Linked DNA regions of Homo sapiens. Changing the gene in region 2 together with the main gene of any one other region gives a genetic interaction. Each region holds a gene or a part of one and is shown on either strand. Other genes may lie near its edges. The genes, in order: PPP1CC, TXN, REV3L and NPR1.

Region 1 (5,500 bases), on a different chromosome or scaffold from region 2:
TGAGCACTTATCCACTAGGCACTGTACTAAGGGCTTTATATTGCCATTCAATCCTGTCAACGATCCTAGGAAGTCAGGCACTGTCATCTCCCATTTTACAGTGACTTAGTCCAAGGTCACAGAGCTTAAGGACACGAGGCCGCGATGCTACATCTAGTGGTGCATTCTTAATTCCCAATTAAGAATCTGTTCTACATTGAACTTCAAAACCAAAGGAGAAGGTTGGGCACGGTGGCTCATGCCTGTAATCCCAACACTTTGGGAGGCCGAGATGGGTGGATGACCTGAGGTTAGGAGTTCGAGACCAGCCTGGCCAACATGGTGAAACCCCATCTCTACTAAAAATACAAAAATTTGCTGGGCATGGTGGTGCACGCCTGTAACCCCAGCTACACAGGAGGCTGAGGCACGAGAATCACTTGAACCTGGGAGGTGGAAGTTGCAGTGAGCCGAGATTGTGCCACTGCACTCCATCCTGGGCAACAAGAAAGAAACTCCGTCTCGGCCAGGCACGGTGGCTCATGCCAGTAATCCCAGCACTTTAGGAGTCCGAAGCGGGCGGATCACCTGAGGTAAGGAGTTCGAGACCAGCCTGGCCAACATGGTGAAACCCCGTCTCTACTAAAAATACAAAAATTAGCCAGGCGTGGTGGCAGGCACCTGTAATCCCAGCTACTCGGGAGGCTGAGGCAGGAGAATCGCTGGAACCCACGGGGCAGGTTGCAGTGAGCCCAGATCGCATCATCACACTCCAGCCTGGGGAACAAGAATAAGACTTTGTCTCAAAACAAACAAACAAACAAACAAACTCCGTCTCAAAACAAACAAACAAACAACAACAAAAAAGCAACACCAACTTAGACCTAAGGATGTGACTTTTCAGTAGAAGTATTAATATTTCTTTATCTGGCTAGAAAGGGAGATTCAGGAAAACGTATTATTACTGTTAAAAGCGAAGGTTGCTCTGTAGAAATGTATCTGATCTATTTTTCTGGCAAATCACTGACACGAGCAATAATAAAAACTTCCACACATTTTTATTGAAAACAAACTGGTAAAAATTTGAATTATAAAAGAATAGCAGCCAGATGTGGTGGCTTGGGCCTATAATCCCAGCACTTTGGGAGGCCGAGGTGGGAGGATCACTTGAGCTCAGGAGTTAGAGACTAGCCTGGGCAACATGGTGAAATTGAGTCTCTACCAAAAATACAAAATATAGCTGGACATGGTGGCGTGCGCCTGTAGTCCCAGCTACTCGGGAGGCTAAGATGGGAGGATCACTTGAGCCCGGGAGACAGATGCTGCATTGAGCCGAGATCATGCCACTGCACTCCAGCCTGGGCCACAGAGTGAGATCCTGTCTCAAAAAATATAAATAAATAAAATAGCATTGGTGATTATTTACAACACCAGCTCTTTCTCATAAGCAATACTAACTTTTGAAAGTTAGCTGCTGGCAAAAAGCAAAGCAAAGATGGAAACTATGGAAGGAAATTTAAGACAAGTTTGAGATTATTTATAAGGAATAAAAAAGTATTTTCCTTGCCACATAAAGGCCCCTTAATTGTTTAAATAAAAACATATTAAAGAAATAGCATATACTAAAAAAGCCCTAGCTGAATTCTAATGAAGTTTCAGAACCTAAGAAAGGCACAAGTGGTATAAAAATAAGCCAACGAAGATTTTGCTGTTTTAAAATAATCCTGTTAAAAAGTAGGTGATAATTTTAACAATATGCCACATCATATTCATTTCAGTGAAATCAATAGCCTCATGATATTTGACAGATTTAGGAAAATAAGACTCAAACCAAAACAAAAAACAGTAAATACTTCCAACATTAAGCATTCCCATAAACGACTGAGTTCTTTTCTGCAAAAAGTATAAACCACAAAAATGTTATCAAGAATCCTTTGGGCCGGATGCGGTGTCTAACGCCTGTAATCCCAGCACTTTGGGAGGCCAAGGTGGGTGGATCAGCTGAGGTCAGGAGTTTGAGACCAGCCTGGCCAACATGGTAAAACCCCATCTCTACCAAAAATACAAAAATTAGCAGGGCATGGTGGTACATGCCTGTAGTCCCAGCTACTCAACAACTGAGGCTGAGGCAGGAGAAATCGCTTGAACCTGGGTGGTGGAGGCAGCAGTGGGCCGAGATCCTGCCACTGCACTCCAGCCTGGGTGACAAAGAAAGACTCAAAAAAAAAAAAAAAAAAAAAAAAGAAAAGAAAAGAAAAAAGAACCCTTTAAGTTTCTCTGCAAAGTCACCAGCAGAAAGACTTCCATGTTCTGATTATCACAATTGTTTCCACACCCTGCCCTCTCCCATCCTGATTTTCCTAACAGATGGGGTTACACTTCAGGCATTGAGAAGTGACACCAAGGCAGGGAGCTGTGGTTCACGCTTGTAATCCCAGCACTTTGGGAGGCTGAGGTGGGAGGACTGCTTGTGGCCAGGAGTTAAAGAACAGCCTAGGCAACACCCCTGTCTTTAAGAAAAAAAGAAAAAGAAAAAAAAATTAGCCAGGTGTGGTGGTGTGTGCCTATAGATCCGGCTAGCCAAGAGGATGAGGAGGAAGAATCGCTTGAACCCAGGAGTTCAGGTCTCCAGCCTGGGGACAGAGTGAGACCCAGTCTCTAGTAAAAAAAATAAAAGTGACACCATTTTTTTCAAGGCAGATAGGATGTGGCTGCAAAACACTGTCTACTGTTCTCAATAAAGCATCTTGAGTTTTCTACACCTCGAGTAAAGCCAATCCATTAAAAACTTTAATTTTCACAGTCTAAGAACACATTTCGGTAATATACCACTGAGTAGACTACATTTTGAGTTTTCATTTGCTGTAAGCTTTACTGTCGGTGATGACCACTACCTTCTAGAAGAGGGATGACAGTAAACCCCAGTGAAGTGGGGAAGCTGGAGATTTCAGACAAATCACCAAGATCCACAAACACATCATCTGTTCTTGATGCTTTGGATACAGAGGTATGATCTTAAAATATCAAACTCTATCCTGGAATTCCATAAGCTCCATGGAAATGAAATCCTTCCTTCTTGGTCTTGAATGACTTTCCAGTTCTTTATCTACAAAGCGACTGACACCCAGAATATTATCTCCTTCATATTTTAATCTCTCAGGTCAACTAATGGCCTCAATTGTAAATTAAGTTAAATGGTGAAGTCCACATAACATCAATAATTTCCCTGCTTCACCATCAGGAATCCTCACCTAGTCAAGTGGGCTGACTGGTACTGTGATTCTGCACAACAGGTTACAGGTTGTAATAGGACTGTGCTTTCAAAGACATCAAATCACCTCACTAATTTCTACAGCTGACCACTGCTGGGCTACAACTGCATGTCCATTTGCCCAGTTATGAGGAGGAACACCCTAGGCTCAGAATGCAGAGCGCTCCTGTGTGTCACATCCCCCGCAAGCACAACGTCACACACAATTCTGTCAGATTTCACTGCTGCCTCCTGCTACTGACAGGCAAGAGGGCACTGCGGGCACAAGGAGAGTAATCCTTTTTCAATGCTGTGGTTTAAAAAAGGACTCCTGCAAGCTGCAGATCATCTGTCTCCAACAGAGCTTTCCCACCTTGCCTAGGAGGAGAGGAAGTGGGCATATGACCAACATACTGATGGGAAAGGAAGGGCAAGGGCTCACATCAGAGTTCTTATCAATGAGGGAATTAGAAACTGACAACTTGGATGTGAGTGTAAAAATTACCTGCTCTGTAAACAAATAATTACAGGCTGGGCACGGTGGCTCATGCCTGTAATCCCAGCACTTTGGGAGTCTGAGGCGGGCAGACCACTTGAGGTCACGAGTTCAAAACCAGCCTGGCCTCATCTCTACTAAAAATACAAAAACTTGGCCGAGCGTGGTGGTGCATGCCTGTTAATCCCAGCTACTCAGGGGGCTGAGACACCAAAATCGCTTGAACCCGGGAGGCAGAGGTTGCAGTGAGCCAGGATCCCACCACTGCACTCCAGCCTGGGTGACAGAGTGAGACTCTGTCTCCAAAATAAAATAAAAAAATAAATAATTACAGGTGTTCATTAGGAAAGATTACTTTTGTTTTTTTTTTTGGTTAGCATATTAAGAAACCTTCCCCTTTTTAAACCATTATGTTTGTCCTTTATTATCTTTAGGACCAGGGATGGCTAAACACCAGAATATGAACGTTTTATACTGCATCAAAAAGATGAACATATGGGTTATTTAAACAATCTTAGAGTTTCAGAATATCTGAACACTCCCTACCTTCAGAACAACCCTTATGTATCAGAGGATTAAATCTGTAAGCACTTTCTGTGAGCCAGGGCAGAGATCATATTTAAATCACTAAAACAAGTCAGGCAATTCTGCAGAGCCTGACATGGTCTTGCACTTTGACAATGGCCTTCTTCAAAGCAAAGATGCTTCTTGCAAACCAAGATGTGAAGTAAGTTACAACCACCTGCTATGCAAAAAAAATGCTAGCCACCATGGCTCCTTGAAGGAGGTCATTTACAAAGTAAAACTGCCCCAAATCTCACTTGTCTTCAATACATCAGACCAAATCAACAGCTGGCTTATTTTCTCTCAAAATGCCGTTTTACTGTGTAGTTATTTAAATAACTAACATCAGTTATACTAAGGAGTTAACAACCTTAAGTTTTATCATCAGCAAGGCAGAGCTTGGATAAAAGCATCCATGGTGGGTTGCAGAGGTGATGCCTCGCTTACAGAAATACTCAGAGTTCAGAGAAGAAAAGAACTGCAAAGGTTAGTGACTAAGATCTAAACCAACATGCTGTTTTTCTTAAGACTTCACTTTTCAGTTAGCTTTTTAGTACTATTACTCAGCTACTTCTCAACTAGGTTATACTGCTCGCAAGCTTAAAAGATCAATTCTAAACACGTAAAAAAATCTGGCCAAAGTCACAAGTCATATTCCCTCTACTTTCAGATATACTTACATCTTATTTAGGGAAAAAAAAGGTTTTGGGGGCATTATGAAAAGAATAAAATTTAGGCCGGGCACGGTGGCTCATGACTATAACCCCAGCACCTGGGGAGGACGAGGTGCGAGGACTGCTTGAAACCAGGAGTTTGAGAACAGCCTGGGCAACACAGTGAGACTCTCATTTCTATTTTAAATTATTAAATTTAATTTTTTTAAATAAAAAATTGTAAAACAGAATTTATTACCAACATCATTTAACTTAGATATCTACATATCCTCAATGGATCATCTTCAACTGTTTCTCTGCCAATTTAACACCCACGAGAAAAAAAGAAATTTAAGTATACTTTGCAGTTAGCCTATTCCCAAGGCATTAAAATGCACTGCTTTATTAATTTCAGCAAAAAATGAAATATAAGAAAACCTGGTTTTCAAGTGCCACATAACAAGAGGAACTATTAAGAAACAATGATCTCATTTTAGATGTATCATTACTTACCAGGCAAAGTACTTATTACAATTTTAAAGATCAAAATTAACAAAA
Region 2 (5,500 bases):
TGTGGGCCTTGCAAAATGATCAAGCCTTTCTTTCATGTGAGTATTAAACAATGTCTGCTTTGTAAGAGATTTGTGTTTTTTGAGTTGGTGGTCACAGTGGTAGGAAAGAAAGACAGTTAAAGGATTTTGGTTTCGGTGGGGGGATTTCTTTGGCTGGATCTTTGGTCTAAAAGTAGTAGTATAACAAATAATTTAGGTTTGATACATGTAGCCCATTGAAAACAAATTTTAGAAGTTAATTTTGTCTTAAATAGTTCTTTTTTTCCCCACATTGAAACATGGGCCTTATTTGAAATCCCAGCCTCAGAATTTGATATGCCAAGCTGTTTTATACTAAGAAAAATTTGATTTAGAGAAAATTTATGTCTCTTAGATCTATGTCTCCAAAGATCTAAATTTTTGGATCTTTAATTAGTCTCTACTTTTATTAAGTTTCCATTTAAGAAGCTTGGGTATGTTGATTGCCATTACCTAGTTCTAAATCTTTTTGGATTTTTCATTTTAAATTTTCCAGTCCCTCTCTGAAAAGTATTCCAACGTGATATTCCTTGAAGTAGATGTGGATGACTGTCAGGTATGTAGCTGGAAATATGAGATACTGCTGAGCTTTTCACATTGGCCTTTTTCTCTGAATTGCACAGTGCTTTTTTCCATAAATATGTCAAATAATTCTAGAACTGTAATCCTATCTAAAAAGTTCTATCTCAGAAGAGCAGGCAAGTTAGGAGCTTAATCCTAGCTATCGGGAGCTGTATATCACATCCTAAAGTAAACAAAAATAAATGAGTGAGACTTCTGAATCTTATCGGCCACCCACCTTTCTAAAACCCTACATTCTACTTTACACTCTGAGATGTGCAATAAATGGAGATTGAATTTAGCTATGATCATTACATCCATAGGCTTGATGGAGTCACCAAATTATGAGACCGCTTGTAGGGCTCTTTGTGAACTTGCAGTAGCATGAGAACCTGCATTTGCAAGCCTATTCTAGTCTTGGTTGATTTTAGTCAATTAGAAACCACAAATGTTTTAACAAATAAACACCAAGGTACCTGAGAGAATAATTTGGAAGAAATTCCAGGGTTGGTTGTATTTAACAAATACTTGTTTTGCACTAGGTATATACCAGGCACTGTTCTGGGTGGTTTTTAAGTATCAGTTCATTTAATCCTGAGTGCTGTTATCATCCCCATTTTATAGATGAGAAAACTGAAACACAGAGGTTGTTCATGAAGTTTCAGTGAGTATGTGGCTGAACTAGGATTTAAAATGAAGTGGTCTGGCTTCCCAGCCCTTGACCTTAAGCACTACCCATCGGAGGATGCTCTGTCTTGTGGGTGTAGATCGGGTGCTTAGCACATGACCACAGACCTAGGAGAGCGGGTTGAGGAGGTATCACTTCGGGGCCCTTTACAGATATGTGAGCATTTTCACTTAGCCCTAGTGGAGAAGGAAAGGCGATGGGGGAAGGGTGCAGTGTGGCAACAGAGGCGCTGGACCTGGCTTCCAGTCCTGGCTCACTAGCATCTGCTTAGGCCAGTCACTCCTCTTCCTTGAGCCTTAAGACCTGCCCCATCAACCTCCCAAGGTTGCTTATTCATTGAGCAAACATGGAATATCCAATAAAGGGTGAAGGGTCACTTAAAACAGGCATATGGCAGTGCTCTCTAAACATGGGAGGGCGCAACAACCCCAGATTGTGTATTCTTAGCCAGTTTTTGACTCTGTGCCTTGGGCAACCCCTGCCTTGGCTTGTGCTGTCTTCTCCATCTGGCCTGTCCTTTCCTTTCCTACCTGACTAACTCCTTGTCATGAGCTTCACCCCTTCTCCACTTACCGCCTTGTGTGCCCTAAGTACCCAGTGAATCTTGGCAATTATTATAATGATCTTTATGTCTGTCCTTTACCATTAGTCTCAGTAGATTCCTAGGATCAGAGACCCTGTCTTAATTCACGTTGGTTGCCCCTTCACCTAGCACACCTGCCTTGCATGTAGTATAGGTGTGGAATGAATGAATGATGAATGTGATATGGTTGTTAAGTTACTATTCTAGATGTGTCCCAGAGTTGTTTTTTTTTTTTTAAAAAGAGTGTAATTGCATTTTTGTGAAAAATCCTTATCCCTTGTTTTAATCAAACTTAGTCTTATTAAGGTCAATTTAGCTAGGGGAAAATTGCACCTGGAATAGAGAAATTCTAACTGCCACTGATCCTATCAGATAGCAACTTGATTTTTTTTTTTTTTTTTTTTTTTTTTTTTTTTTTGAGATGGAGTTCACTCTGTCACCTGGGGTGGAGTGCAGTGGCATGATCTCGGCTCACTGCAACCTCTGCCTCCCGGGTTTAAGCAATCCTCTGTCTCAGCCTCCTGGGTAGCTGGGATTACAGGCATGCACCACCATGCCTGGCTAATTTTGTATTTTTACAAAATTAAAACCCCAGTAGAGACGGGGTTTCACCATGTTGGTCAGGCTGGTCTCGAACTCCTGACTTCAGGTGATCCACCCACCTCGGCCTCCCAAAGTGCTGGGATTATCCACCACGCCCGGCCTTGATTTTTATTTGAAAGCAATAATAGGTGCCAGATGCCATGATAAGCCCTTTGCATGCACTATGTCATTTAATCCTCACGATAACTATACGAGTATTTTTTATTAGCACCCTCATTGAACAGGTAATGGCACTGCAGCACAGAAGGTAAAGTCAGTCTCTTGAGGCAGACCAATGCACCATACTGTACTGAGGACAGGTCTTCTTACTGCCTTTAGGAAGTACAGTCATGCATCACTTAATGATGAGGATACTTTCTGAGAAATGTTAGGCAATTTTGTTGTGCACACATAGAGTGTACTTACACAACCTAGATGGCATAGCCTCCTGTACACCTAGGCTATGTGGTAAAGCCTGTTGCTCCTAGGCCACAAACAGGTAAGGCATGTTACTGTACTGAATACTGTAGGCAGTTATAACACAACAGTAAGTATTTGTGTATCTAAACATAGAAAAGGTATGGTGAAAACATGATATGAAAGATTAAAAAATGGTATGCCTTTATAAGGTACTTGCCATAAACGGGACTTGCAGGACTGAGAGGTGCTCTGGGCGAGTCAGTGAGTGGGTGGTGAGTGAATGTGAAGGCCTAGAACCTGTAGACGTTATAAACACTGTATGCTTACAAATTTTATTTTTAAAATTTCTTTTTTCAGCAATAAATTTATTGTAACTTTTTTACTTTATAGTTTTTTTATTTTTTTAACTCTTTAACTCTTGTAATAACACTTAGCTTAAAACACGAATGCATTGTACAGCTCTACAAAAATATTTTCTTTATATCCTTAGTCTATAAGCTTTTTTTAAAAAGACTTTTTAAACTTTTTGTTACAAACTAAGATTCAAACACATACATTAGCCTAGACCAACACAGGGTCAGGATCATCAGTATCACTGTCTCCCATCCCCACATCTTGTCTCACAGAAAGGTCTTCAGGGACAGTAACATGCATGGACCTTTCATCTCCTATGATAACAGTGCCTTCTCCTGGAATGCTTCCTGAAGGGCCTGCCTGAGCCTGTTGTATAGTAACTGTCTTTTTAAAAAAATAAGTAGGAGTACACTCTAAATTAATAATGAAATTAAAGTAAATACAAAAACCAGTAACGTGGGTGTTTATTATCAAGTAGTATATACTGTCCATAATTGTAGTGATATGCTTTTTTAAGTGAAAGCAAGTTTATTAAGAAAGTAAAGGAACAAAAGAATGGCTATTCCGCAGGTAAAGCAGTCTGTAGTGGTATACTTTGTATGTAATTGCAGCGCAGATTTGTTTGCACCAGCTAATGCGATGGGCTATGACATTAACCCATCACTAGGTGAGAGGAATTTTTCAACTTCATTATAATCTTATGGGACCACCACATATATGCAATCTGTTGTCGATCTAAATGTTATATGGTGCATTACTATAGGTGTGCAAAGCACTCGAGGACTTCCGTATGACAGAGCTCCTCCTTCATGTCTGCTTGGTGCACCCTGATCACCCTGAATGTATCTTTTTTTTTTTTTTTTTTGAGACAGAGTCTCACTCTGTCACCCAGGCTGGAGTGCAGTGGTACCATCTCTGCTCACTGCAACCTCCACCTCCCGGGTTCAAGCGATTCTTCTGCCTCAGCCTCCTGAGTAGCTGGGACTACAGGCAGCCGCTACCACACCAGGCTAAATTTCAACTTTTTAGTAGAGACAGCATTTTGCCATGTTGGCCAGGCTGGTCTCGAACTCCTCACCTCAAGTGATCCACCCGTCTTGGCCTCCCAAAGTGCTGGGATTAGAGGCATGAGCTACCGTGCCTGGCCTGAAAGTGTCTTTTAAAACCTTGAAGTGACCCTCTGACAAACTGAGGAACTTTAACTTTGCCTCCATAGATTGATAGAAAAGTATGAGTAGTAGCCCTTTTGAAAATGATAGACCAACCTTATTTCTCTGACAGCCAACAGGGTTATGATACTTATTTTATAAATGGTAACCTCCCTCTGACCCTTACTTGGAGTGAGTTTTCAATAGTATGCATTCAATAAACATTCACCATTTTTATTCCAGCCATTACTGTCCTTGTGCCTCTTACTGGAACCTGTACTTTCATGCTCAGCAGGTGTCCAGCATTAAAAGAAAAAGTAAAGATTACCTAGAAAGAACTCCTCAACAGTAGTGCCACCCACCATCCTAGAGGTCGTCATAGTGTTTGTAGCTGGCCTTTCTTCCCCTTGAGAATTCTCCGTTGGTTTCCGTGATTTGGTTATCAACAGTCCTGCCTGCTCGCTTGCTGTCCTGTGTAGCTTTTGCTGCTTAGGTGCTGAGTGGTTCTATATTTCTTTCCCAGTCCTCTTTTGAGTGCCTGGCTGACATTTTCAATCTCTATTGGGCTCCAAACCAAACCAGTTTCGTGGTATTGTCCTCCAAACCTTGCCCTCTTATAGCATGAACAATGTGTTGAGCATGGGGTATTATAAGAGTTCTCATTTAGCATTCCACAGTTGAGGAATGTGTGTTACTTCAATTACCTTTGAGCTGTAGAAAAATCTTTAGCTGTGGTAACAGCCACTTCTAGGAGAGGAGAAAATACGGATCAACTAGCCCAATTTGCGATGTTAGGAATTTGTCGATTTTCTTAGTAGGATGGCTTTCAAAGGTTAGAGCATCAGAGTCACCTGAAGCCCGACTTTAACTGTAATGGTTTAAGATGGGGTTGATGGGGAAACTTGTAGTACCCCTCAGGTAATTCTGATACTGCAGCAAGGTTTGAGAATTCACAAAGTCTTTTTATTTTTCCTCCCGAGATAGTCTCATTCTGTCGCCCAGGCTGGAATACAGTGGCATGATCTCAGCTCACTGCAACCTCCGCCTCCCAGGTTCAAGCAATTGTCCTGTCTCAACCTCCTGAGTAGCTGGGATGACAGATGTGTGCCACCACACCTGGCTAATTTTTGTATTTTTAGTAGAGAT
Region 3 (5,343 bases), on a different chromosome or scaffold from region 2:
TGCGTTATCTGCACAAATTGTTTGTAAAGCATGTGTGTTTGAACAATATGAAATCTGAGCACCTTGAAAAGAACAGGATAACAGCGATTTGCAGGGAATAAGGGAGATAACCATAAAATCTGACTGCCTGCAGGGCCTGGCAGAACAGAGTCATATTTCTCTTCTTTCAGAAAGCGAATAGGAGAAATATCGCTGAATTCTTTTCTCAGCAAGGAATAACCCCGGGAAAACGAATGCATTCTCAGGGGTAGGTCTCTAAAATGGCCACTCTGGGAGTGTCTGTCTTATGCAGTTGTAGACACGGGATGAAATATGCCCTGGCCTCCTGCAGCACCCCCAGGCTTGCTAGGATTAGGAAATTCCAGCCTGGCGAATTCTAGTCAGACTGGTTGTCTGATCACGAACCCTGTTTCCTGTTAAGATGTTTATCAATGACAATGTGTGCCCAGCACGACATGGACCTTCATCAGTAATTCTAGTTTCACCCTGGCCTTGTGATCTCACTCTGCCTCTTTGCTGTTGTGATATTTTACTGCCTTTGAAGCATGTGACCCACTCCCTATTCGTACACCCCTCCCCTTTTGAAACCCCTAATAAAAACTTGCTGGTTTTGTGGCTCAAGGGGCATCAAGGAACCTGCCAACATGTGATGTCACCCCCAGAGACCCAGCTGTAAAATTTCAAAAAAAAAAAAAATCAAATAATGTGAATTTGAAAGTAGTGGTGCAGACCAGTGGTTCTTAACCCTGGCTAACAATGAGCTTAAAAATAAACAAGTGCCCCATCCCAGACCCATAATGAGTCAGAATCTCCAGGCATGAAAGCCTAAGAATCTGTACTTCTTAAGGCTTCCCAGATGATTTGGATGTATAATAAGATCTGATCTTAAGGAAAATAATAAATCATAAGGCAATTTTTAAAAAGAGAAGCACTATAATGTTTTACACAATGATCAATTTTTAAAAATACTTTAAAGTCTCAAGTTGCATATATAGTTAAAAAAAAGGTTATAAAACATGAAGAACATAAAAAAATTAAAAAGGATGCCAATGAAGACTCCAAAGGTTAAGAAAATGCAGGCCGACTTTCACCTGAATAGTGTAGACAAGTGATTTTAAAAAAGCCATACCAAATGGCAACAACTACTCTGGATTGTCTTTTAAGAGAAATCAAATACGCTCTAGTGAATTCTTTGATCTATATTTATCAAAGGGTTTCAGTTTCAGAGATGGCTCACAGGCCAGTGAAGTTTTGTTCTTTGCCCCAGTTATCTTCCAGTTAACCGAAGGGCACACTTTTTCTAAGTAGACTGGTTACTGTATCCAATATTATGATATTGTCACAAGCAGACTGCTTACAAACATGTGCTTCAGTATGCTCCATGAAGACTGAGTATGCTGTTCTATGATGAAGCCTTTGCTAATTAGATCTCTGCCAAGAGACTCAAATCTATTCCCAAATATAGAATTTCTGTATTACAGCTCTATGAATTGCAGTTACATTCAGGTGCCAGGACAAACTGATAAATATTTAAGCTCTTTCTGTGCTTGTCTGATAAATAAGCCAGGATGGAATTACTTGACTCACTAAATTTAACTCAGTGTTTAGTTTCAAGATCCTTTACTGGTTTAAACCCTGAGCATTATAGCTTGATTCAGGCTTACATTTAAAACTTTAGTGCCCCAACCCGGACATCTACTTTGTAGCACATAGGGAGGCAGGCACTTAAAAAATATCTGCTTTAATCTTTATTCTTTTTACTATCCTTTGGCTTTCTTGTTCAAAAAAAATTTAGTCAAGGCTGGGCACAGTGGCTCATGCCTGTAATCCTAGTACTCTGGGAGGCAGAGGCAGGTGGATCACCTGAGGTCAGGAGTTTGAGACCACCTGGCCAACATGGTGAAACTGTCTCCACTAAAAATACGAAAATTAGCTGGGCGTGGTGGTGCATGCCTGTAATCCCAGCTACTCGGGAGGCTGAGGCAGGAGAATTGCTTGAACCTGGAAGGCAGAGGTTGCAGTGAGCCAAGATTGCACCAACTACACTCCAGCCTGGGCAACAGTGAGACTCCGTCTCAAAAAAAATTTTTCAGTCAGATGCTTGCTTCATTTGCTTTCATTCTTTCATGTTTATGATTAACAGTGTTAAGGTGATGAATTTTTCTCTGAGGTCTGCCATCTAGAATCTGATTTGCAGTGTTTTCATTTTGTTTAACAGAATTTACAAGTGGAAGGATCACTTTTTTTTTTAGTTTGTAATTAATTACCATTTTATAGCATTGTATTACATTCATTTGTAATATTTCTACTTTTTGAAATGTACTGAGGCTTTCTTTTCTTTCTTTTTTTTTTTTTTTTTGAGATGAGAGAGAGCGTCTCATTCTGTTGCCCAGGCTGGAGTGCAGTGGCATGATCTCAGTTCACTGCAACCTCTGCCTCCTAGGTTCAAGTGATTCTCCTGCCTCAGCCTCCTTAGTAGCTGGGATTGCGGGTGCCCGCCACCATGCCTGGCTAATTTTAAATTTTAATTTTTATTATTTTATTTTTAATTTATTATTTTTGAAATGGAGTCTCACTCTGTTGCCCAGGCTGGAGTGCAGTGGCACAATCTCAGCTCACTGTAACCTCTGCCTCCCTGGCTCAAGCGATTGTCCTACCTCAGCCTCCCAAGTAGCTGGGATTATAGGTGCCTGCCACCATACCCTGCTAATTTTTGTATTTTTAGTAGAGATGGGGTTTTGCCATGTTGGCCAGGCTGGTCTCAAACTCCTGCCCTCAAGTGATCCTCCTGCCTCAGCCTCCCAAAGTGCTGGGATTATAGGCGTGAGCCATGATCCCCAGCCGAGGCTTTTTTTTTTTTTTTTTAACAGACTATGACTTTTTTTTTTTTTTTTTTTTTTTTTTTTTTTTTTTTAAGATGGAGTCTTGCTCTGTCACCCAGGCTGGAGTTCAGTGGTGTGATCTCGGCTCACTGCAGCCTCTGCCTCCTGGGTTCAAGTGATTTTCCTGCCTCAGCCTCCTGAGTAGTTGGGAGTACAAGGCTCATGCCACCATGCCTGGCTAATTTTTGTATTTTTTAGTAGAGCTGGGGTTTCTCCATGTTGGCCAAACGTTTCAAACTCCTGACCCCAGGTGATCTACCTGCCTTGGCCTCCCAAAGTGTTGGGATTACAGGCATGAGTCACCACACCTGGCCAGATATTTTTAAAACATTCTAGAAACACTTAAGAAGTATATTTTTTGGTACTGGGTTACAGAGTTTGATATATAATCACAAGGTCTGACTTATAATGTTTACAATTTCCATAATTTCACTTATTTCTGATCACTTGATTGGTCTTGGATTGAGAATGATGTAAAATCTCCTGTTTGGATGTGTTTCTAATTCTCATTACATCTCTAGTAATTTCTGCTTCATTAAAAATTTCTACAAATTAGTGCATGGGAGACATTTAAAACATTCTAGAAACACTTAAGAAGTACATTTTTTGGTACTGGGTTACAGAGTTTGATATATAATCACAAGGTCTGACTTATAATGTTTACAATTTCCATAATTTCACTTATTTCTGATCACTTGATTGGTCTTGGATTGAGAATGATGTAAAATCTCCTGTTTGGATGTGTTTCTAATTCTCATTACATCTCTAGTAATTTCTGCTTCATTAAAAATTTCTACAAATTAGTGTATGGGAGACATTCATTTGAACGTTCTTGAAAAACACCTCAAATTAAAATAGCTCTTGAAAGATGACAAACCATCATTATTTATAAATAGCATCGCTTTTTCTTTTTTTTTTTTTTTTCGATCCAAGGGTATACATGTAGGTTTGTTACATGGGTATACTGTATGATGTTGAGGTTTGAGCTTCTAATGATCCTGTTGCCCATGCAGTAAATGTAGTATCTGACAGGTGGTTTTTCAACTTTTCCTCTCCTCACCCCCCTTTTGGAATCCCTAGTGTTCATCATTCCCATCTTTATGTCCATGAGTACCCAATGTTCATTATATGTGAGAACATGCAGTATTTGGTTTTCTGTTTCTGCGTTAATTTGCTTAGGATAATAGCCCCAGCTGCATCCATGTTGTTACAAAGGACATGATTTTGTTCTTTGTTCTTTTTTTTTTTTTTTTGAGACAGAGTTTCGCTCTTGTTCCCCAGGCTGGAGTGCAATGCTGCAATCTCAGCTCACTGCAACCTCTGCCTCCCAGGTTCAAGCGATTCTCCTGCCTCAGCCTCCTGAGTAGCTGGGATTACAGGCATGTGCCACCACGCCTGGCTAATTTTGTATTTTTAGTAGAGATGGAATTTCTCCATATTGGTCAGGCTGGTCTCGAACTCCCGACCTCACGTGATCCGCCCGCCTCGGCCTCCGAAAGTGCTGGGATTTGTAGGCATGAGCCACCACGCCCGGCCGATTTTATTCTTTTTTTATGGCTGTGGCATCACTTTCTTTTAAACTGTATTTTTATAAGAAATAAGATGGCCGGGCATCATGGTTCATGCCTGTAATCCCAGCCCTTAGGCAGCTGAAGTGGGAGGATTGCTTGAGTCCAACAGTTTGAGACCAGCCTGGGCAACATAGTGAGACCCGATGTCTAAAAAAAAATAATTAGTAAAACATGGTGGGATATGCCTGTAGTCCCAGCTACATGGGAGGCTGAGCTGAGAGGATCACTTGAGCCCAGGAGGTTGAGGCTGCAATGAGCTGTAATCATGCCACTGCATTTCAGTCTGGGTGACAAAGTGAGACCCTACCTCAAAAATAAAATAAAATAAAAATAAATAAATAAAAAGAAAAAAAGAATGAACACCTAATGTTGAAGGAGGATGGGCTCTGGGTAAATTGATGGCACCAAGTAGTGATGTGTTTGTCATTGAGTGCAGAAAAAACATAAGAAAGTCTAGGAAAGGACCATTTAACAGCCTGACCTTAGCAGAGCCCTGGAGGTCCTGCTCTCATTTAGGCGTCATACTAGGATCCAGCAAGGGAATTTTCTATGAGAGTTGGCTGCTGCCATCAGGACAGAAGTCTATTAAATAAATAGAAGCTGGGAGCACCCAGTGACTTCAGTGGTTGTACTGACTAGAACCACAAAACTGGTAAAAAATGGCTGAAAGTTGGTTGGTAATAACTCCAGTGATATATTCCTTCTTTAATCATGCATTAACCAGGAACTTGTTCATTTATTCAATAAATATTTACAGACCAGCCCCATGGGCTTGGCTATATGCTAGGCATAACTGACTTGACAGTCAAAGAACTGGGCCTCTGTCCTCACTGGTTCATTTGCTATTTAGTGAGGAAGACAGACAAACCCCAAATCACAGTAAAGCAGAG
Region 4 (4,903 bases), on a different chromosome or scaffold from region 2:
GGCAGAATGATGTGGAGTCTTAAGAGAGGAGATCGGGGACACGGGCAGAGACAGTGACACAGGGAGACCCGGGAACAGGCAGAGAACCCATGTGGGATGGGGGATGAGCAAAGACAGATGAGGGTACAGAATGACAGACGCTGCACCCGGTGTGACGGTGTGGCCGGCCGCACAGTTGCAGCCGTCAAGTCCTGCACCCCCTCGCCACTCCCACAGGTGGAGACAATTGGCGATGCCTACATGGTGGTGTCAGGGCTCCCTGTGCGGAACGGGCGGCTACACGCCTGCGAGGTAGCCCGCATGGCCCTGGCACTGCTGGATGCTGTGCGCTCCTTCCGAATCCGCCACCGGCCCCAGGAGCAGCTGCGCTTGCGCATTGGCATCCACACAGGTAAGGCCACTGAAGGTGCAGGCGGGCATCCAGAGGCCAAGGCTTCGCAAGGGAAACTTGTCCCCTGGCCCAGCCCCTCGCCCTTTCATCTCTCTCTCTCTCTCTCTCTCTCTCTCTCTCTCTCTCTGTCTCTCTCTCTCTCTCTCTCTCTCTCTCTCTCTCACACACACACACACACACACACACAGAGCTGGGACCTCAGATCCTGCCTCCTGCCTGTCTTGGATTGTCCACCTACCTCCCTTAACACCCCTCCCTCCCTCACTCGCTGATGGGCTCTGCTCCTTCCCTTGCTCCTCCCAGGACCTGTGTGTGCTGGAGTGGTGGGACTGAAGATGCCCCGTTACTGTCTCTTTGGGGATACAGTCAACACAGCCTCAAGAATGGAGTCTAATGGGGAAGGTACAGTGCCCCCTCCTAGAGGGAATGGGGAGGGCAGGGTGGCTGAGGGAAATGCCATCCTGGGGCAGCCTGTGCCTGCACAGCCCGTTTCAGCTCCTAGCCCTTTCGCCTCCCAAGTTCCCCTTCTCATAATATTAAGAGTTCAACCTGGGCTCATCAACTTGACTGTAACCAGAGACTCAGGTTCCTGCTGCCCCTCTTGTCAAACGATGTAAAAGTATTTCCGGGCCAGTGCTGGAGAGTTCCCAGCAGGAATCTGATTTTAAGACCCTCTGTGGGCCGGGCGTGGTGACTCACACCTGTAATCCCAGCACTTTGGGAAGCTGAGGCAGGCGGATCACCTGAGGTCGGGGGTTCGAGACCAGCCTGACCAACATGATGAAATCCCGTCTCTACTAAAAATACAAAAAACTAGCCAGGTGTGATGGCAGGCTCCTGTAATCCCAGCTACTTGGGAGGCTGAGGCAGAAGAATTGCTTGAACCCGGGAGGCAGAGGTTGCGATGAGCCAAGATTACACCACGCACCCCAGCTTGGGCAATAAGAGTTAAACTCTGTCTCAAAAAAAAAAAAAAAAAAAAAAAAAAAGACCCTCTGCTCCACCTTTGATGTGGTAAAGATGGCTTCAGAGCCAGCATAAGTGAGGCTGTGAATCTCAGCTCCACAGCTGGCTGTGTGTCAGTTTGCTATACCTCTCTGAGCCATGGTTTTCCTCATCTGTAAAAAGAGGGAAAAAATCTATCTCACAGGAATTATGTGAGAAACCCATTAAAAATGTCTACCACATAATTGTCATTTAACTTTTCCAAGCCTTAGCGGATTATCTGTAAAATGATGTCTATCTCAGGATTGCAAGAAGCCTAGCACAAACCCTGGTACCCAGCAGGCACCTAATAAATTCTTACTCCTACCCGCCCCTTGCTCTTGCCTCCTGTTTATCTTCTATCCTTCTGCTGTATTCGACACAATTCAATGCAGTAAACATTTATTGAGTGACTACTGAGTGCCAGGCCCTGGGATAGTAACATGGCCCAGATCCAGAGTTAGCTGAGAAATTCATGTGGACCCCATCTAAACCTTATGGTGAAAGAAAGGCTGCTTGGGAGCCAGTCCTGGGAGCCCAGAGGGATCTAGTTCGGCAAATATTCCCTGGGCACTATTTTGGGGGCTGTCAGAGTACAGCCCCTTGTTGAGGGTCCAGTCCTCAAGGAGCACATTCCCAGAAATTGTTCAACATTCTGGGCGCTGGGGGTGCTTGTAATCCCAGCACTTTGGGAGGCCGAGGTGGGCAGATCACTTGAGGCCAGGAGTTGGAGACTAGCCTGGCCAACATGGTGAACCTCCTGTCTCTACTAAAAATACAAAAAATTAGCTGGGCGTGGTGGCACGTGCCCGTAATCCCAGCTACTCAGGAGGCTGAGACATGAAAATCACTTGAACCCAGGAGGTGGATGTTGCAGTGAGCCGAGACTGCACCCCTGGGCAACAGAGCGAGACTCTGTCTCAAAAAAAAAAAAGAGAGAAAGAAAGAAAAGAAAAGAAAGAAACTGTTAAACACAACAAGGCCACTGTGATTGATGCAAACCCCAGAAGTAGGGACATGAGTTCAGACAGTGGTCAAAGAGAGGGTGTGGCAATATTGGGCCCCACTCCATCACTGACCTCCTCAGCCACTTGGGCAGATCACCCTGGGCCTCAGTTCCTCGGCCACAAAATGAGGGTATAGCATGAAATCATGAAAGCAACAATTTACATAGTGCTTCCTAGGTAGCACATTCCGTTTGAATACTTTATGGATGTTAAATTTAATCCTCACAACAAGGTTTTGAGATGGGTACTGACACTATCAGCATTTTACAGATTAGGAAAATGAAGCAGAGAGAATTTATTTTACATACCTAAGCAAGTATCCAAGCTGAGGTTCATACTGAGGCAGTGCAGGATCCAAAGTGCCAGCTCCTAACCACCATGCTGTGTAGAGCCGGGTGACACTCCAGAGAGTGCTGTCCAACAGGATGTTCCATAGTCATGAAAATGTTCTGTATTCTGTGCTGTCCAATACAGTAGCCTCTAGGCACATATGGCTACTTATCACTGGAAATGTGACGGGTGCAACTGAGGCCCTGATTTTTTTTTTTTTTTTTGGAGACAGAGTTTCGCTCTGTCGCCCAGCCTGGATGGAGTGCAGTGGTGCAATCTCGGCTCACTGCAACCTCCGCCTCCCAGGTTCAAGCGATTCTCCTGCCTCAGCCTCCCAAGTAGCTGGAATTACAGGTGAGTGCCACCACACACAGCTAATTTTTGTATTTTTAGTAGAGACGGGGTTTCGCCATATTGGCCAGGATGGTCTCGAACTCCTGGCCTCAAGTGATCCTCCTGCCTCAGCCTCCCAAAGTGCTGGGATTACAGGTGTGAGCCACAGCACCCAGCCTGAATTTTTAACTGTATTTAGTTTAAATTAATTTAAGTTGAAACAGGCACATGTGATTAGTGGCTACTGTATTGGATTACACAGCTCCAGAGTTCTAAATGAGAGGCTAATGTGGTCACGCACTACATTCAGGGGGTGGGGCCCCTCTGAGCTAGAGGGCTTCCTGGCCCAAAAGAGGGAGAGAGGGTACCTGTCCACCTGTCCACCCCCACAGTCCCTGGTCTCTTTTGCCTCTACTTTCCTGCTCTCCTCTCTCACATTGCTCACCTTCCCTTCTCCCCTGTCCTACCCAGCCCTGAAGATCCACTTGTCTTCTGAGACCAAGGCTGTCCTGGAGGAGTTTGGTGGTTTCGAGCTGGAGCTTCGAGGGGATGTAGAAATGAAGGTAGAGGGAGAAGCCTCTGCCCTCCCCACCTTTTGGGGTCCTAGAGGGAGTTACCCTTCTCAAGCAGCCAATGCCACTCCCATCCCTAAGGCTCTCATCTGACTGGGGAAAGGGCATGTGCCACTCCCCAGCCCATCCTCTTTTTTCCCTCCAGGGCAAAGGCAAGGTTCGGACCTACTGGCTCCTTGGGGAGAGGGGGAGTAGCACCCGAGGCTGACCTGCCTCCTCTCCTATCCCTCCACACCTCCCTACCCTGTGCCAGAAGCAACAGAGGTGCCAGGCCTCAGCCTCACCCACAGCAGCCCCATCGCCAAAGGATGGAAGTAATTTGAATAGCTCAGGTGTGCTGACCCCAGTGAAGACACCAGATAGGACCTCTGAGAGGGGACTGGCATGGGGGGATCTCAGAGCTTACAGGCTGAGCCAAGCCCACGGCCATGCACAGGGACACTCACACAGGCACACGCACCTGCTCTCCACCTGGACTCAGGCCGGGCTGGGCTGTGGATTCCTGATCCCCTCCCCTCCCCATGCTCTCCTCCCTCAGCCTTGCTACCCTGTGACTTACTGGGAGGAGAAAGAGTCACCTGAAGGGGAACATGAAAAGAGACTAGGTGAAGAGAGGGCAGGGGAGCCCACATCTGGGGCTGGCCCACAATACCTGCTCCCCCGACCCCCTCCACCCAGCAGTAGACACAGTGCACAGGGGAGAAGAGGGGTGGCGCAGAAGGGTTGGGGGCCTGTATGCCTTGCTTCTACCATGAGCAGAGACAATTAAAATCTTTATTCCAGTGACAGTGTCTCTTCTTGAGGGAGAGAGGGTTGCCAGAAAACAGTCAGTTCTCCACTCTCTACTTCAAATAAGACTCACTTCTTGTTCTACAAGGGTCTAGAAGGAAAAGTAAAAAAAAAAGACTCTCGATTCTTAAGCTGGGAATGCAGGCTCTGAGAGTAGTAACAGCCTATGAATTGCCCAGCAGTGCTGAAACTGGTTTAAGGACCCATTTACATCCTTAAGAATTATTATTATTGGCCGGGCACAGGGGCTCATGCCTGTAATCCCAGCACTTTGGGAGGCTGAGGTGGATGGATCACCTGAGGTCAAGAGTTCAAAACCAGCCTGGCCAACATGGTGAAACCCAGTCTCTACTAAAAATACAAAAATTAGCTGGGTATGGTGGCACGCGCCTGTAATCCCAGCTACTCAGGAGACTGAGGCAGGAGAATCTCTTTTTTTTTTTTTTTTTTTGAGACGGAGTCTCGCTCCTTCGCCCAGGCTGGAGTGCAGTGGTGCC

Evidence for each region.
Region 1: changes in TXN (region 2) and PPP1CC together harm fitness less than expected from each alone (positive genetic interaction), as found in Homo sapiens cells (one large-scale study listed by BioGRID).
Region 3: changes in TXN (region 2) and REV3L impair growth when combined (synthetic growth defect), as found in Homo sapiens cells (one large-scale study listed by BioGRID).
Region 4: changes in TXN (region 2) and NPR1 together harm fitness more than expected from each alone (negative genetic interaction), as found in Homo sapiens cells (one large-scale study listed by BioGRID).

Annotation. Positions count from the first base shown.
Region 1 is NC_000012.12:110,735,280-110,740,779, forward strand, and holds part of PPP1CC (serine/threonine-protein phosphatase PP1-gamma catalytic subunit), read right to left. Parts: intron 1-5,500. UniProt on the Homo sapiens protein: Protein phosphatase that associates with over 200 regulatory proteins to form highly specific holoenzymes which dephosphorylate hundreds of biological targets.
Region 2 is NC_000009.12:110,245,894-110,251,393, reverse strand, and holds part of TXN (thioredoxin), read left to right. Parts: coding exon 1-36; intron 37-514; coding exon 515-574; intron 575-5,500. UniProt on the Homo sapiens protein: Participates in various redox reactions through the reversible oxidation of its active center dithiol to a disulfide and catalyzes dithiol-disulfide exchange reactions.
Region 3 is NC_000006.12:111,300,824-111,306,166, forward strand, and holds part of REV3L (DNA polymerase zeta catalytic subunit), read right to left. Parts: intron 1-5,343. UniProt on the Homo sapiens protein: Catalytic subunit of the DNA polymerase zeta complex, an error-prone polymerase specialized in translesion DNA synthesis (TLS). Lacks an intrinsic 3'-5' exonuclease activity and thus has no proofreading function.
Region 4 is NC_000001.11:153,689,590-153,694,492, forward strand, and holds the end of NPR1 (atrial natriuretic peptide receptor 1 precursor), read left to right. Parts: intron 1-115; exon of another isoform or gene 116-204; intron 205-216; coding exon 217-391; intron 392-694; coding exon 695-793; intron 794-3,516; coding exon 3,517-3,608; intron 3,609-3,762; coding exon 3,763-3,825; 3' UTR 3,826-4,403; downstream 4,404-4,903. UniProt on the Homo sapiens protein: Receptor for the atrial natriuretic peptide NPPA/ANP and the brain natriuretic peptide NPPB/BNP which are potent vasoactive hormones playing a key role in cardiovascular homeostasis.